2 separate regions of the Homo sapiens genome follow, and region 1 is linked to region 2. Evidence: fine-mapped expression QTL. A gene starts in region 2. The other region holds a variant in brackets. All regions are shown on one strand. Distances are between the middles of the regions.

Region 1 (8,333 bases), 950 kb before region 2:
ATCTAATGCCGTTGCTGATCTGACAGGAGGTGGAGCTCAGATGGTACTGCTCGCTTGGCAGGCTCACTTCCTGCTGTGCTGCCCGGGTTCCTAACAAGCCATAGACAGGTACCCATCCGCGGCCCTGGAGAGTTGGAGACCTCTAAATTGGAGGTAGCCAGGTGTGATGGAGGAGGATAGGAGGGAGCGCTGCAGGTGCACCTGCACAGCCCAGGATGCAAATGAGCTCAGAACACACCAGAGGATGCAAGAAGGCCAACATGGCTGGGGCCTAGGGAATGCAGGAGAGAGAGGCATGAGATGACTCAGGAGCAGCAGGCAAGCAGCCTGATCATGCTGTGGCATTGCAGATCATGAAAGATTGAGGCCTTCAATCTAAGAGTACTGGGAAGCAGGAGCCCACCAAGAGGGGCCGTGTGGGGGCAAGCCACCCTGAAGGCAGGAAATAAGGTGTGCATTGTCTATAGAGAGTTGACAATAATAAAACTGACTAGGCCAGGCGTGGTGGCTCGCACCTGTAATCCCACCATTTTACGACGTCGAGGCGGGTGGATCACCTGAGGTCAGGAGTTCGAGACCAGCCTGGCCAACCTGGTGAAACCCCGTCTCTACTAAAAATACAAAAATTAGCTGGGCATGGTGGTGGGTGCCTGTAATCCCAGCTACTCGGGAGGCTGAGGCAGGAGAATCACTTGAACCTGGGAGGTGGAGGTTGCAGTGAGCTGAGATTGCACCATTGCACTCCAGCCTGGGCAACACAGCAAGTCTCCATCTCTTTGATAAACCTGACAAAAACAAGCAATGTGGAAAGGATTCCCTATTTAATAAATGGTGCTGGGAAAACTGGCTAGCCATATGTAGAAAGCTGAAACTGGATCCCTTCCTTACACCTTATACAAAAAGTAACTCAAGATGGATTAAAGACTTAAATGTTAGACCTAAAACCATAAAAACCCTGGAAGAAAACCTAGGCAATACCATTCAGGACATAGGCATGGGCAAGGACTTCATGTCTAAAACACCAAAAGCAATGGCAACAAAAGCCAAAATTGACAAATGGGATCTAATTAAACTAAAGAGTTTCTGCACAGCAAAAGAACCTATCATCAGAGTGAACAGGCAACCTACAGAATGGGAGAAAATGTTTGCAATCTACCCATCTGGCAAAGGGCTAATATCCAGAATCTTCGAAGAACTTAATTTACAAGAAAAAAACAACCCCATCCAAAAGTGGGCAAAGGATATGAACAGACACTTCTCAAAAGAAGACATTTATGCAGCCAACAGACACATGAAAAAATGCTCATCATCACTGGCCATCAGAGAAATGCAAATCAAAACCACAATAAGATACCATCTCATGCCAGTTAGAATGGCTATCATTAAAAATTAAGGAAACAACAGATGCTGGAGAGGATGTGGAGAAACAGGAACGCTTTTATACTGTTGGTGGGAGTGTAAACTAGTTCAACCATTGTGGAAGACAGTGTGGCTATTCCTTAAGCATCCAGAACTAGAAATACCATTTGACCCAGCGATCCCATTACTGGGTATATACCCAAAGGATTATAACTCACACTACTATAAAGGCACATGCACACGTATGTTTATTGCAGCACTATTTAAAATAGCAAAGACTTGGAACCAACCCAAATGTCCATCAGCGATAGACTGGATTAATAAACTGTGGCACATATACATCATGGAATACTATGCAGCCATAAAAAAGGATGAGTTCATGTCCTTTGCAGGGACATGGATGAAGCTGCAAACCATCATTCTGAGCAAAGCATCACAAGGACAGAAAACCAAACACCACATGTTCTCACTCATAGGTGGGACTTGAACAATGAGAACACATGGACACAGGGTGGGGAACCTCACGCACCCACACCGGGGCCTGTCAGGGGGTGGGGTGCTGGGGGAGGGATAGCATTAGGAGAAATACCTAATGTAAATGACAACTTGATGGGTGCAGCAAACCAACATGGCACATACATACCTATGTAACAAACCTGCACGTTCTGCACATGTACCCTAGAACTTAAAAGTATAAAAAAAAAAACTGACTAAAATCTCATCTGCTTTTTATTTCCACCTATATATACAACCATATGTGTGTTATAAATGTTTCTGATATAAAGGATGTGTAATAAACAATACACAAGTAAAAGGCAGACACTCTTTATTGTCAGTTCTATCTACTTGACTGATTCTCACAGAAAGCTTTGCTTCTTTTTTGCCAAAGGCTTGTATCTGAATCCATCCAATGCTTGTAACTCAACCATGATGTGACTAGTGAAATTACATACCGATCCACTTTTTGCCAACAAATTTATTGTCCTTAAATCTGATATGTGATCTGTTAAACTACTTCTTACCCTTGTATAAACTCATTAAACTGCAATCTTGTTTCAGCACTAAACACATTTTTAAGTTTAATCTACATTATTAACATCTTCCCCATCACTTTCTGAAGTCTAGAGACAATCAGCAAAACAAATCGATCCCTGATTCATGATTCATAATGTTGGCTAATTTCCATGGTGTAAATACTTCGACCATGGCCCATTACAGTCTACCAACGAGACATCACTGAGTGTGGGCCGGGAAAACGCACGTGCAGTAAGCACATTATGATACGTAATACTGGAAATGGTAGGAAGTGGACAGACTTCAGAGTTATTTAGGAAGTAGAATCTTGGCGATTTGTTAGATGCCGAGGTGAAGGCAGAGTTTGGGAAACACTGGATAGTGGTGTCTTCACTATCACAGGGAGACAGGGAGTTGAAAGCAAGCAGGGAAAGGACGCATTCAGTTTTGGATGGGTTCCATTTGAGGTGCTTGTTACCAGGAGTAGCTGAATAGGAAGCTAGATAAACGGATTTGGAGCTCAGAGGAGCAAAGATTAGAGTTGCAAATTTGGGATATATTGATTTAAATGTTGACAGCAGGTTAAATCATTCAGGGAAAAATTGTGGAGTAAGAGGAAAGGTCTGAGACCTTGAAAACTCTGTTATTTGGTGGTCACCCAGAGTAGACAAGCACGCCAAGACTGGGGACAGACAGGAAAGTGGAGCACCCCCGCCACAGGAAGACGTGTTTTAAGGAGAAAGAAGGAATTTTGCTCAGATCAGTTAACACGAGAAAGGAGAGTGTCCTTTGACTTTAGTGATGTGGATGCTACTTGCGACAATTAAAAAGGCAATTTCACCGAGTGTGAAAACGAACACGTGGAGTTGAGAGACCACAAAACTGGGGGCAGGCGCCTCTTTCACCAACTTCAGCGATGGAAAGTAGAAGAGGGTGGCAGCAAGGGTACGTGGAGTAGAGAATCTTGGAATGATGAAATGCCGAGGATACGGATTCCAGTCCAGAGGGAGCAACGGATCGGATTCTGCGATACTGGAAAAACAGAAGGTGGGGGGGGGGGCTCGGTGATGGAGGGAGCAGGTGTGCAGTTTTGCCGGTGGAAAGTGGAAGTTTCTCTTTTCTCCTGAAGCAGGCGGCAAAGACCTCTGAGAGTGGGAGTGTGGTGGGTGTGCCGGGCCCCTGGATGGGAGTGGAGGTTTGGAACCAAGTGGCCCGAGCCTGCGGTGAGTGGGCCCGCCCTGGGTGGCTCTGGCCGCAGCAGGGTCGATGGGGCGGCATGGTCTCGGCGGGAAGAACACGGCTTCAGTCAGTTCTGTTCTAAGAAGCAGAAGGTGGAGATACGCATGTTTTAAACAACTCCTCCCGGACAGGAAGAAGTGGAGTTCTGGCTGTTCTGCGAGGACGCCGCAGTCCCAGCGTGGAGACCACCGCGCAGGCGAAGCGCGAGACAG[G/C]CCAGAAATAGGGTCCCGCGCGCGGACCCCGGAGGAAAAGCGAGGGCTCACTCGGTTTCCCGCAGCCAGCCTCGCCCGACCCAGCTGGGGCCGCCCCTTCCCGCCCCGGCCCCGCCTCCGCCTCAGCTCCGCGCCCACAACCCGGCTTCCTCCTCTCCCGCCGGGTCCGTCTGTCCCTGCGCCTCCTTCGCCGCCGACTAGCGCCCCCTGGCCTGACGTCACCGGCGCGTCCGCCAATGAGCTGAGGAGGGACTTGGCTGTGGCCTGAAAGTGACGGGAGCAGCAGCCAATGGTCGGGCGGAGGGGGCGGGCCGAGACTGGTGCTGGGGGGCGCCCGCGCGCGTGGGGAGCTGCGGGAGGCGCGGCGCGGGGGGGGTCGGGTGCGCGGCGGGCGGCCCCTCCCCCTGCCAGGTCCGGGCGGGTGCCTGGAGCCGCCAGAGTTTCCGCACCCGGGAGGGAGATGCGGCCGGGGCTCAGGCTCCTTGCAGGTAACGCGCGGGGCGGCCCCTGCAGGGCCGAGCGCGCCGCGGGGCGAGCGGAGTTGGACGCGGAGCGGGCGCGGGTTCCCCGCTGCCGCCGTGTCCCGAGCCCCGCACGGCGGCCCGGGCCAGAGCGGCGCTGCTGGAGGAGTTGGTTCCGGGACCTGAGCTGCGGCCCGGGCCGGGGTCACGGGGGACGCGGGCCCCTGTGTGAGCCGCACATGGGACAAAGGGCGCGGCGTGGAGGCTGCGCGCCCCGCCCGCCGCGCTCGGGCCCCTGAGCTTCTCCGCCCGGGCAGAGGTCGCCGCCCCCAGCCCCTGCCTGCACAGCCGCGCCGGCGCTCCCTCGGCCCGGGCGCACCCGGCGCCTGCGGCGCGTCCCCGGAGCGGCCATCTGGCCGCGGGGCCCCGCGCCTGGCCGCCAGCTGGCCGCGGCGCAGGCGATGGCTGGACACAGCCGGGCCGCTTGGCCGCCTGCCCTGGGTTCCGCGGCGGCTCCCCCGCCGCGCCGCGAGCGCCTGCTACTCCACGCTCGGCTGCGGAGCGGAGCGGCGCGAGCGCGGGGCCACCGGCCCGGGCGCCCGGGGCCACCGAGCCGCCGCTTCCCGGCGTGGGCTCGGAGTTTGGGGAAGCCGAGCAGGTGGCGCAGCCACTGCCCACCTCCTGCGAACTCTGCGGGGCTTCTGGTCTTGTTGATGTTGTGGCTATGGGCTGCGTGTGTGTTTTTCTTTTTTTTAAACCACACACAAAAGAAGGGAGGAGTTAGAGGAACGATCTAGCCACTATGAGTCATCCCACACTTCGCTCTTTCCCCGGGAGAGCAAATAAATGCATGGGGAGAATGTCTTGAGAAACAGTTATAGTAGGGACTGACTAGGTCCCCTCCCTGTCCCTTTTCTCTGCAGTCCTGTCTGCGCCGGGCGCGCCCCAGATGGAGTGGGGTAAAATCACGGCCAGTGCACCTAGATAGGGGAAATGGCTACAAGCTAGCAAACTGGAAACTTTCTGGGACAGTGGAACTGTGAATATCAAACCACACACATTCTTGCTATAGGCAGCCATGGCCCTCGTGCGCTACTGAATTATAAAATGGGAAGGCCGTCACAGCAGGACGATACCTTAGCCTTCAGTAGCATGTATTCAGCACTGCACGGAGGAGGGCGGTGGTGGTGGCTCGCGCCCCTGCCTTGAGGGGCCCAGGGTCTGATCAGTCAGGAAACTGCCAGGCCCAGGGATGCAGGGTCACAAACGATTGTGTTCTCTAATCTGATTCCCAGAGGCGCTGTCACCTCTCAGCGTGCATAGGATGGCTGGCTATGTGATTGAATGTTACAGATGAGGTAGAAAGGCTGGGCAGAGGTCAGCAGGCCCCTGGATGCATGGAGGGGAATATTCTTCTGTAGGTGGCTGCTGCTAATTTTTCCAAGGGGAAACATTTAGGTTTGGTCTCGCCATTCTGTTTACCGCAGTCCAGGCTGCCGTGTCAGCTGTCATTGGGCCCTCATGGTTCACAGCTGGATGACATTTGTTTTTCTGGGGTCCCTGTGTGGGGTCTTTTTGGCCTTCTCACTGATGATTAATTTGTTTTAACCTCCTGAAAACAGAGGCTCGATATGAGAAGTTTGAGAAATTGTAGGATAAAGGGACGTCTGCTTTGTTCCAGATTCAGCCCCTGTTGAGGGGCCAGTTGATTCTGTCGCAGGAGTCAGGTAGCGAGCAGAACACTGACTTCATTCCTCCTGGGTTGTGCCCTCTGCTTGGCCTGTAGCAGAGGCCACAGTGGGTCTCTCTTTTTGTTGCTTCATAAGGTGAACTAACGATCCAGCTATGGCAGAGGAGCCAGGGAGCCCAGGCAGGACATCATGTGGAGAAGAGGGACCAGAAAGTTCAACCTAGGGCCCATCTGGAAGAAAACAGAGCATCCTTTCCTATTTCATGTCCTGACTGTAAAAAATGGTGGAGGCCGGGCACGGTGGTTCACACCTGTAATCCCCATGCTTTGGAAGGCTGAGGCAGGAGGATCGCTTGAAGCCAGGAGTTTGATTCCAGCCTGGGCAACATAGTGAGACCCTGTCTCTACAAAAAAATATTTAAAATAGCCAGGCATGGTGGCATATGCCTATAGTCCCAGCTACTTGGGAGGCTGAGGTGGAAGGGTCCCTTGAGCCCAGTAAGGTGAAGCTGTGGTGAGCTATGATCATACCACTATACTCCAGCCTGGGTGGCAGAGTGAAACCCTGTTCAAAAAAAGGGGGGAAGGGATGTAGAGAGGGTGGTCCCCCGTCTCTGCCACCTTGCTCAGACAGGGCTTCTTTTAACTGAGTGCCAGGCCTGGCTCAGGTCATTGAGGAACAGAAGTCGTTTAGTGTTGGAGGAAGGAGAGTTGGGAACAAGGTCACTGTGCATGGTTGTACAGTTTGTGCCAGACACCTGACCAAGGAAGCCATGTGCCCCGGGTCTGCCCAAAAGAAGGGCCCGCCTTTCTCAGTCGCACCAGGTCACCCGATGGGCTACTGCTGGCCCTAGTGCTCAGCCCATCTGCAGGAATAAACACTGGCAACATGGGTGCGCCCGAGACAGGCAGTCAGGGACTGGGAAGCAGCGGCTAATTTCTCCAAAATCTAACAATAATGAGAACTAGTTGTTTGCATACATTTTCTCCTTTAATCCTTACCACCACCTTCTGAAGAAAGTGGTGGTGGTACTGTGTTGTGCCAGTGAGGAAATTGATTCTTAGAAAGACTAAGCAGTTCAAGGTCGTGCAGCCGGCAAGTCCAGGTTTGTCCGTCACCAGAGCCTTTGGTCTCAACCACTGGACTAGACTGATCACTTTGCCTGGCTTTCTAACAAATTGTAGCTTTTTTTTTTTTTTTTTTGCGTTTGCTAGTGAAAGGCATTTTCCAAACTGTTCCACTATGTACGTTAACAGTAAATCCCTTCAAAGAAAAGAGCATTTGTGAGTATTTTCAGTGGCAGCAAAGAAGTGGGAGGCCTTGGAGAAAGGAGAAGGAGCCCCCTGAGATAGAGAAGCAGGGGAGTCACAGCAAGGAGGGGAGAGCCAGCCAGAACTGGGAAATGATGTAGGGGCAGGGGCGTTGGAGGTAGGCCAGGTTTCCTGCTGTCCCTGCAAGAGCAGAGGAGGAGATCATCTGAGATCCACTGAGTCAGCCATCCACTTGACTTCCCAAGAGTCTGGACCTGGCCTCCTACCAGGGCATCTCGTTGATGGTGTGGTCCACAGTCTGCCTTATATATCCTGGGGCTGTGGCTTGGAACATGATTATGCTTAGAACATATTGCTTAGAACACGTTTATGTTCTAAGCAATCTGAGGTACAGTCGCTAATTTAGGAGCACAAAGTATTTCCTGATTTAGTATTCTACTTAGAAGGCCATTTGAACCTTGACAAACGTTTGTGAAATAATTTTCAAATATTTGAGCCTGAAGCAGATAATATCCAGGCTCAGTGGCACACTCCTATAGTCCCAGCTACTTGGGAGACCGAGGCAGGAGGGTTACTTGTGCCCAAAAGTTGAAGCTAGTCTGGGCAACATAGCAAGACGCCATCTCCAAAAATATATTGCATGAGCCAATAAATTCACTATTGAAACAATAAAACAGATAACGTCAAAACCGGTTACATGACCTTTTGTCAGCTCATGACTCTATTGTGCATTTAAAATTGCTATAAATTATTTGTTTTCCTTCACATTTAATTTTCTAAAATTTCTCCCCATGTTAAATCATAGTATCTTCCTAACTATTCAGTATTTGGCTTTGTTGGGCTTTGTTGTTGTTTGAGACAGGGTCTCACTCTGTTGCCCATGCTGTAGAGCCGAGGTGTGATCTCAGCTCACTGCAGCCTGGAACTCCTGGGCTCAAGCAATACTCGCACCTCTCAGTCTCCTGAGTAGCTGGGACTGCAGGCATACGCCTCCACACTCAGCTAATTTTTGTATTTTTTTTTGTAGACACGGGGTTTCACCTTGTTGCCCAGGCTGGTCTCGAACCTCTGGGCTCAAGCCATCCA
Region 2 (8,333 bases):
AGGGAGATGGAAGCTGCACTGCTCCCCACCTTTCACATGGACAGATATTCTAGGTGAAGCGTCCTTGCCATTGTGAATTAAACTCCAGTTTAGCATCAAGCAGGACACATTAATTCCAGTTGTTCAGAAGGAACAGAGACGTGCGCATGGCTATTTTATAAGTGTCCAGAGGAGCATGGGCTGTTTCTTCTGAGGGAAGGAACCATATTTTCCAAATTAGTCCAAGGGGTAGTCGATGGGCGGAATGCCCATTTATCTACTTCGATAATGACCTGGTGTTCCTGATGACTAATAATGCCTTCAGGAAGTAGTTAAACACCACTATGTTGTATACTGGTGGTGCACAAGATAAAAAGCAAGGGAAATAGGCAAATGAGGAGAAAAAGGAAGTTCAGGCAATAATTTTGACAATAAAATGGAAAAAGTTTTAAGCATTCAAATTACGACGGGTTCATTCCAGCCTTACCAGCCCTCTCTGTCTACAGGGACAATTTTGGACAAGTCTGTTAATTTCCCTGGTAGAGTCAATTTCCTAGTAATTACAGTTTGTTTTTTTTTTTAAGTTCTGTTCTCTACTCATCTCTACTATATCTTACATTATTGGGATTATGAGATCTTAAAAGTTAATATAAATCTCTGATCACATTAACAAGACTGAACAGGGAGTAATCTTTGAGGAGGAAAAACAAAGACAAATAACTGATTTCAAGAGCCATGATTTTAGGAATTACTTTTTCTGCTGACTCCTGCACTATACTTGACACATAACAGATGCGAATTAAATATATACATGAATAAATAAATGCAAAAGCCAATTACCTTCAAATTAGCTTCATACAAATTCCCTTTCCTTAATCATACAGTATCATTAATAATTATTTGTAAAGCATTTTAAAAATTAGAAAAACAAGTAGAATTACCTATTTACTATTTACCTACAAACCAATGTGCTTCTGTTAATCATTCAAATGAAAAACACTGACACAGAAGTTTCAAAGAAAGCGGATGTATTTTTAAATATCTTTGGGTCAAGTGTAAAGTTATCCTGTCGAGACTGATGGGCAGGGAAAAGGTAATGAATGCCTCTTGTATTACAGCACAGTATTTTCATATTTTCATATCTTATTTTCATATCTTAACTCAATTTTTAAGCTGTCAAGATATTTGTAACACCTTGAGTTAATAGGTATGTTCCCTGAGATCAGAAACTGGCTACAGGTTTTAAAACTCATTTAAAATAGCAAAATTATAAAATAATGACCCATTATCACAATCCCCCTATCCACACAGCTTAAGATACACAGGAAACTGATTTCTCTCCGAAACCAAAGAAAGAAAAAACACCTTTAAAATAGGCCAGGCACAGTGGCTCACACCTGTAAGTGGCTAAGGAGGGAGGATTGCCTGAGCCTAGGAGTTTGAGACCAGCCTGGGCATCATGCTGAGACCCCATCTCTACGAAATATACAAAACTTAGCCGGGTGTGGTGGGATGTGCCTGTGGTCCCAGCTACTTGTTGGTGGGGGACGCTGAGGTGGAAGACTGATGGCTTGGGCCCGGGGAGGTTGAGGCTGCAGTGAATCGTGTTTGTGCCACTGCACTCCAGTATAGGTGACAAGGTGACAAGGTAAGACCCTGTCTCAAAAAAAAAAAAAAAAAAAAAACTGCCATATAATGCTGAAATTTCTAAAATAATTTGGTGTGGAAAATCACTAGTCTTTAAAGAACATAATGCATCCAGAAAAAAGAAACAGTAAGAAAGAAGGGAAAAAGAAAAAACAAACATAGCCCCAAGGAAAACAAAGCCCCAGCAGAATGTGCTGCAGCCATCCCAAGCCCCTGGTACCGTTCGTGCAGGGATGCCTGTATGCCCTGTGCTCCAAAGTATGTCACCACATCAGCCTCCAGGGGAGAAGCAATTAAAGGACAGTTCTCACTGCAGAACTGAAGCCCAGTTCCTGAGATACGAAAGCTAAGTGAAACCATTCTGGTGTGGAGTATGTTATTCAGTTTACTTCTTGGCTAGAAACAAAGAGGTTAAAATTGAGAACACAGGATTCTTCACATCAGGAGATGTCCGAGGCCCTTCCTTCCTCCCTCCCCATCCAGGGGTCCACTGTCCATGTGGCCCCAGCACGTCCGTGAGAGCCATCCTGCTAACACCTATCTACCCTCCGCCTCTGTCTACTCTGACTTTGAAACTAATGTATGGCCTTCTTTATCATCTAGCACAGCTTAAACAGTGGCCAATGTCTCTGTTCTGCTGGTGAAACCATCAGTAAGTTTTATTTCAATGCTTTGAGGCATTCTTTGGCCTTTTTTTTTTTTTTAATATAAGCAGCTGCAGTCTTTTATTTATTTTTGTAGAGACAGAGTCTTGCTATGTTACTTAGGCTGATCTCAAACTCCTGGCCTCAAGTAATCCTCCCACCATGGCCTCCCAAAGTGCTGGGATTACAGGTATGAGCCCCTGGGCTCAGCCGCTTTTTTTTTTTTTTCTTAAAGCAGGCTAAGATAGACATATATTCTGCAACTAGACTTTGTGCTTTAGTAAAGAAACAAAAGTAATTTCAACTTTTAAAGAAGGCTTTGCTACTTCAATTTTGACCATACAACTTTTCTGTCCATGTTTATTTTTCTTTATACAGTGCAATCTGCCGAAATCTGGTCTATATTAACAAAGTACAACAAAACCAGGACCCCTCCTCTCCTCTCCAAGCCCCCGCCTTTTTTTTTTTTTTTTTTTTTTTTGAAACAGAGTCTCACTCTGTCACCCAGGCTGGAGCGCAGTGGCACGATCTCGGCTCACAGCAACCTCAGCCCCCGGGGCTCAAGTGATTCTCCTGCCTCAGCCTCCTGAGTTGCTGGGACTACAGGCATCTGCCACCACGCCCAGCTAATTTTTGTATTTTTAGTAGAGAAGGGGTTTCACCATGTTGTCCAGGCTGGTCTCAAACTCCTGACCTCAGGTGATCCACCTGCCTCGGCCTCCCAAAGTGCTAGGATTACAGGCGTGAGCCACCGTGCCTGGCCCAAGCCCCTACTCTTTAGGGGAAAGAATGGGGAGGCCGTTCCGTGTGTTTAGCAGGATGGTCGGCACTGCCTCTGGGGCTCCCTCCCTGGTCCTGTGTCCATGCTCCTCCCGCCAAGACTCCAGGCGTGGTCCCCTCTGGCCTTCAGCTCCTGTCTATCATCTTGGGCGGCTCTGCTGCTCCCTGAGCCTCTGGAGTCCTCTGCTCAGAGGCTCCACTGTCCCCAGGCTCACCCCATCTCCATACCCGGAGGGAGCCACCTTGCCCTTCCTCTTCGCCTGGCATGGCCTGTCTTGAGGAAAGCTGGAAGGGAAAGTGCTGCCAGGAGCTGTTCTGTATTCTCACTAAGAGGCCAGTCAGCCAGGACGCCCAAAGCTTTCTGCTCTCCCCGTGACTCGCTCCAGCCACCTGGGCAGTGCTGGGCTGCCCCCATGAGCGTGCTGCACCTCCCCTGGGCCTGACAGGTCCTCAGTGCACTTGCAGGCTGTGGTGGTGATTGGTTCTGCCACACGTGTTAGTCAAAGTTTAAAAGGAAGATCCAGATACCAAAGGAGTACATGGATGCAGAAAAGTGAGGCCTCAGCTGCCTAACCAAGAGGCTGGTTTCCTGAGTGTCCTGGGTGCACCTTGAGATCTATGGCCACTGTGACAAGGCCTTGGAAAGATCAGCAGCTCCAACAGTGGCCAGCCATCCTCCAGCCAGCAACTGGGTCGCAGCACTGGCCACGCTGACGTGGGGCCAACGGTGGTGGAGGCACCGGCCACGCTGATGTGGGACCAACGGTGGTAGGGGGGCACCGGCAATGCTGATGAGGGACTGACGGTGGTGGGGGCATGGGCAATGCTGATGAGGGACCGACGGTGGCAGGTGCACCAGCAATGCTGACACAGTACCAATGGTGGTGGAGGCACCAGCCACACTGAAGCGGTGCCGAGGCTGGCGGGGGGAAGGGCCCCACTGCCACAGGGCCGACGGTGGCAGGGGGTAGTGGCACCAGGGAGTCAGGAGAACACATAAGGAATACTCAAGTGCAGGCTGAAAGTGGTCCAGGATTCCATCTTCCTCTTTCTCCTTTATTCCTAAACTTTATCAGTAGAAGACCATCATTTGCTAATTGACAGAGAAAGGAAAAGAATTTTTCAGTGACTGCCAGTGCCTTGTCAACAGGCCGATGGCTGGCTGCGCTTTCCGCAGTCCCCTCTGGAGGGTGGAGAGCAGTGATGATGAGTCTCCGGCCTCACTTTCCCGCCTCCCATTTACACACACTTCTAAAGCCCACCAAACCCCTAAGATATTTAGCCCGAAGCAGATCCAAAGGCACACATCTTACTGACCAGATGAAACCATGCCTCAGAGATACATTTATCTCTGGCTGCCACCACCTCCAACCACCATTCCCTATGTCTTTTCCTTCAGCATAGCTGATACTCAAGCAGATGACTGACAAAGGAGCCCAATCTAAAGGGCTGCTGAAGGAAGGTTTGGAGGGCCTTTTGGCTAAGATCACATGTATGTTATCCCCATATAAATGGCCAAGTACATCTGTTGGTCACCGACAATGTGTCAGGCATAACACAGCACAAAGATACTCTCTCCCCTCTTTAGGCCTCACACTTTTAAAAGACAAGAGAAACAGTCCAGATCATTCTTTTCAGTACTATTTGTTTCCAGCTGAAGATGAGAGAGATCTTTTAACACAGCCCTTCATCCTGATCTCTGGGAAGGAGACAATTGGATGGCCCTGGCCATTCTGCTTTCTCTGGTTCCCATAGCAAGGCCCTGCAGAACTTCTAGAACACAATTATGAGGAAAGAAGCTCTCAGCATTCCAAAGCAGAAGGAACAACTGTCTTGAATATGTCGAAAATTGCTGTCTTTAAGGTATTAAGGAAGGACCCAGTTTATATTTACTGGGGTGGGGCTGGGCATGGTGGCTCATGCCTCTAATCCCAGAACTTTGGGAGGCTGAGGTGGGAGGCTTCTTTGAGCCCAGGAGTTTGAGACCAGCCTGGGCAACATAATGAGACTCCATCTCTACAAAAACAAAACAAAACAAAACAAAAAAGCACACAGTAGCCAGGCATGGTGGTGCACAACTGTGGTCCCAGCTACGTGCGAGGACTGCTTGAGCCCTGGAGGTTGAGGCTGCAGTGAGGCGTGATTGCACCACTGCACTTCAGCCTGGGTAACACAGTGAGACCCTGTCTCTATTAAAAAGAAAAAAAAAAAAAGAAGTTGGCTCATACCTGTAATCCCAGCACTCTGGGAGGCCGAGGGAGGCGGATCATGAGGTCAGGAGATCGAGAACATCCTGGCTAACACAGTGAAACCCCATCTCTACTAAAAATACAAAAAATTAGCCGGATGTGGTGGCACACACCCGTAGTCTCTGCTACTCGGGAGGCTGAGGCAGGATAATCGCTTGAACCCAGGAGACGGAGGTTGCAGTGAGCCGAAATCGTGCCACTGCACTCCAGCCTGGGCAAAAGAGTGAGACTCCATCTCAAAAAAAAAAAAAAAAGAAAAGAAAAGAAACATATGTATATTAAGTATTAATAAGTACCCAGTTTATATTTATTGGGGGAGGGGGCCAGTATGGTGGCTCACACCTGTAATCCCCCCCACCAAAACACAGAGCTTTGGGGAATACCCTCACAAAACTCATGAAAAGAAATATAATGGGATCTGTAATATTAATACTAATATTGTCTATATTTTTATTTTTTGAGACAGTTTTGCTCTGTTGCCCAGGCTGACATGCAGTGGCATGATCTCTGCTCACTGCAACCTCTGCCTCCCAGGTTCAAGCAATTCTCCTGCCTCAGTCTCTTGAGCAGCTGGGATTACAGAAGCCCACCGCCATGCCTGGCTAATTTTTGTATTTTTAGTAGAGACAGGATTTCACCATGTTGGCCAGGCTGGTCTGAAACTCCTGGCCTCAAGTGATCCGCCCACCTCGGCCTCTCAAAGTACTGGGACTACATGCATGAGCCACCGCACCCGGCAATACTGTCTTTAAGTAGAGACCAAAAGGTATCTATCATTCCCTGTCCTGAGATAGACAGGACAATGTTCTTCAGCTGGTGTTTACTGCATAGTGTTTACTCCCATACTGGCCACGGGAGAAATAACTAATTATATCTAGACAAACCCAGGTGTCTTGCTTGCCTGTCTCTCAAAGAAAATGGCTCATTTGCTAGATGGACTATTTTTGTTACTTCTTGGATACTAGATCTGACCTGAAGGAGGTTTGTTGGAGGCAGAGTGAAATGTGTTTGTGTTTATTCCTTTTTTTCTACTTGGTTGCAGCAGATGAAGCACCCAGAGGACCACAATCCTCGGATTTTATGAGAAGACCTTCTGCCCTGCCTGCCCTTTTGAGACCTTTATCTGAAAAGGAACCTGCAATCCTAGAAAAGAGGTGGAGGCAGGCTTGATTCAGTTAAGGAAGTTCTTTCTTCTCAGCAATTACCACGCCAATTCTGTGGAAAAGCAACATTTGGAAGACGAGAGAAATCCACTGTAGGAAGTATTAGAAATACCTGCAATTAGGCTTCAAACAAGCAAATGAGGCAGGTCTATTCCCCAGGCCTAACAAGTCTTTGAGGTATTGTGCACAGAAACAAAGTTTTTTTTTTTTTTTGAGATGAAGTCTTACTCTGTCACCCAGGCTGGAGTGCAGTGGCATTATCTCGGCTCACTGCAACCTCCGCCTCCCAGGTTCAAGTGATTCACCTGCCTCAGCCTCCCGAGTAGTTGGGATTTCAGGCGTGTGACACCATGCCTGTCTAATTTTTGAACTTTGAGTAGAGATGGGGTTTCACCAAGTTGTCCAGGCTGGTCTCGAACTCCTGACCTCAGGTGATCTGCCCGCCTCAGCCTCCCAAAGTGATGGGATTACAGGCGTGAGTCACTGTGCCCAGTCAAAACCAGGTTCTGATGTACATCCTTGCACGCCTTTTTTGTGGCACAGAGCAAGTGGTAACCAGGTAACTTCCCTGGCCCTCTGCATACATGAAGGAAATGAGAATGTAGGTGCCTGAGGCCCTACAGACACTACTGCCTTAGGGATAAGGGGCGGGGGAGGGGCGCTCATGGGGGGACGCACTGAGGGCCAGGCCTGTGCCAGCCGCTTTACATTATTCAGAGTTTAAGTCTCACACCGACCCCTGAGCTGCTGGCTCTTCCCTTTTCAGGGCAGGAAAAGTAAATGACGACAGCCTGTGTCCTCTCCATGACACCACTCTGCCTCCATGGAACCACTCTGCCCCCATGGATCTCTCCAGTTTTAAGTCTGGGGAAATCTATCAATCACACAATTTCAGTTAGCATTCCAAGAACTAGGGGAAGGCCCGAGTAATCTATTCAAAGACATGCTTCAGAAAGAACACACCGACCCCATGGAGAGTTAAACCTGATTACCAAGAAGCAGGATAGTTAGGTGTTTCCGCTATTTACATAATCATTGTAAATATAAGTTACAGACTAATTACAATGATAATTATGACAATGAGCCTGGCATGGAGGAAGAGTTTAATAAATAATATTTGATGAATGAATGAGTTCATCTTTGAGTTCTTAATCTCAAAACAGTACCAGAAAGAACAAATGAGAAGTCTAACACCTTATTAATTTGAAAATAATAATTTAAGAAAATTCTTATGATTGGCTATTAAACTTTTGGCAGAATAGCAGTAATTATCATAAAACATACTCTGAAATTAATTCTGAAATCTTGCCTTAATGTGTTTACATAAACATATTAGATGTATACATTCATGAAAATCAACCCATCTACACTCAACTGAAAAACAGATGCTTCAACTGGAGAAAAAGGGATTTTATCTCTCCATACCCAAAGCTATCTTAAATTAGGACTTTTAACCTGTTGCCTTCGTGCGCATGTGCAGTAGCTGGATTAACAGGAGAGAAAGCAACAGCCCAAGAACCGACCCTCCTGCATCAAATGAGTAAACCAAAAAGGAAAGGGGATTTACGCAAACACCACAATGCCTCCCCGGGAGCCGTTCCAGTCCATCAGAACCAAATCCACCCTTTCAGCGGCGTGGAAATGTACGGATACCGAACAGACCTTGCATTTACAATAAATAAACATTACGTACATTTTCCAAAATGAGCTTATAAAATACAACAGGTATGGGACTCAGTTTAACTAAGCATTTTAGATATATCCTAACATCAAAACAGTTAACATTTCCCACTGAGTTTCTACAGCATAGTACTAGAATGTCCCTTCATCTCTCTGCTGCCCTCTCCACAAACAAGAAAGCTGGTCAATAA

Which allele goes with the higher level. Positions count from the first base shown, and alleles are read on the strand shown. Sizes are in standard deviations (SD) of each study's normalised expression.
In carriers of allele C in region 1, the expression in hippocampus of the gene that starts at base 4,833 in region 2 tends to be lower than with G alone (moderate effect, 0.66 SD a copy in GTEx).

What was found.
Region 1: its variant is fine-mapped to the expression of CLYBL-AS1 in hippocampus (GTEx, PIP 0.99).

What each region holds. Positions count from the first base shown.
Region 1 is chr13:100,670,723-100,679,055 of GRCh38, reverse strand. It overlaps TMTC4 (transmembrane O-mannosyltransferase targeting cadherins 4), which reads left to right and starts at 4,261. Exons shown (of 19, transcript NM_032813.5): 1 at 4,261-4,312. RefSeq lists enhancers at 3,591-3,670, 4,996-5,885 and silencers at 3,861-4,360, 4,391-4,750, 4,801-4,880. The variant G/C (reference allele first, on the strand shown) is at 3,825.
Region 2 is chr13:99,725,501-99,733,833 of GRCh38, reverse strand. CLYBL-AS1 (CLYBL antisense RNA 1) reads left to right here and starts at 4,833. Exons shown (of 3, transcript NR_120383.1): 1 at 4,833-4,913; 2 at 6,342-6,604; 3 at 7,799-8,166. The region is part of intron 1 of CLYBL (citramalyl-CoA lyase); the gene reads right to left. RefSeq lists enhancers at 2,574-3,490, 3,491-4,408.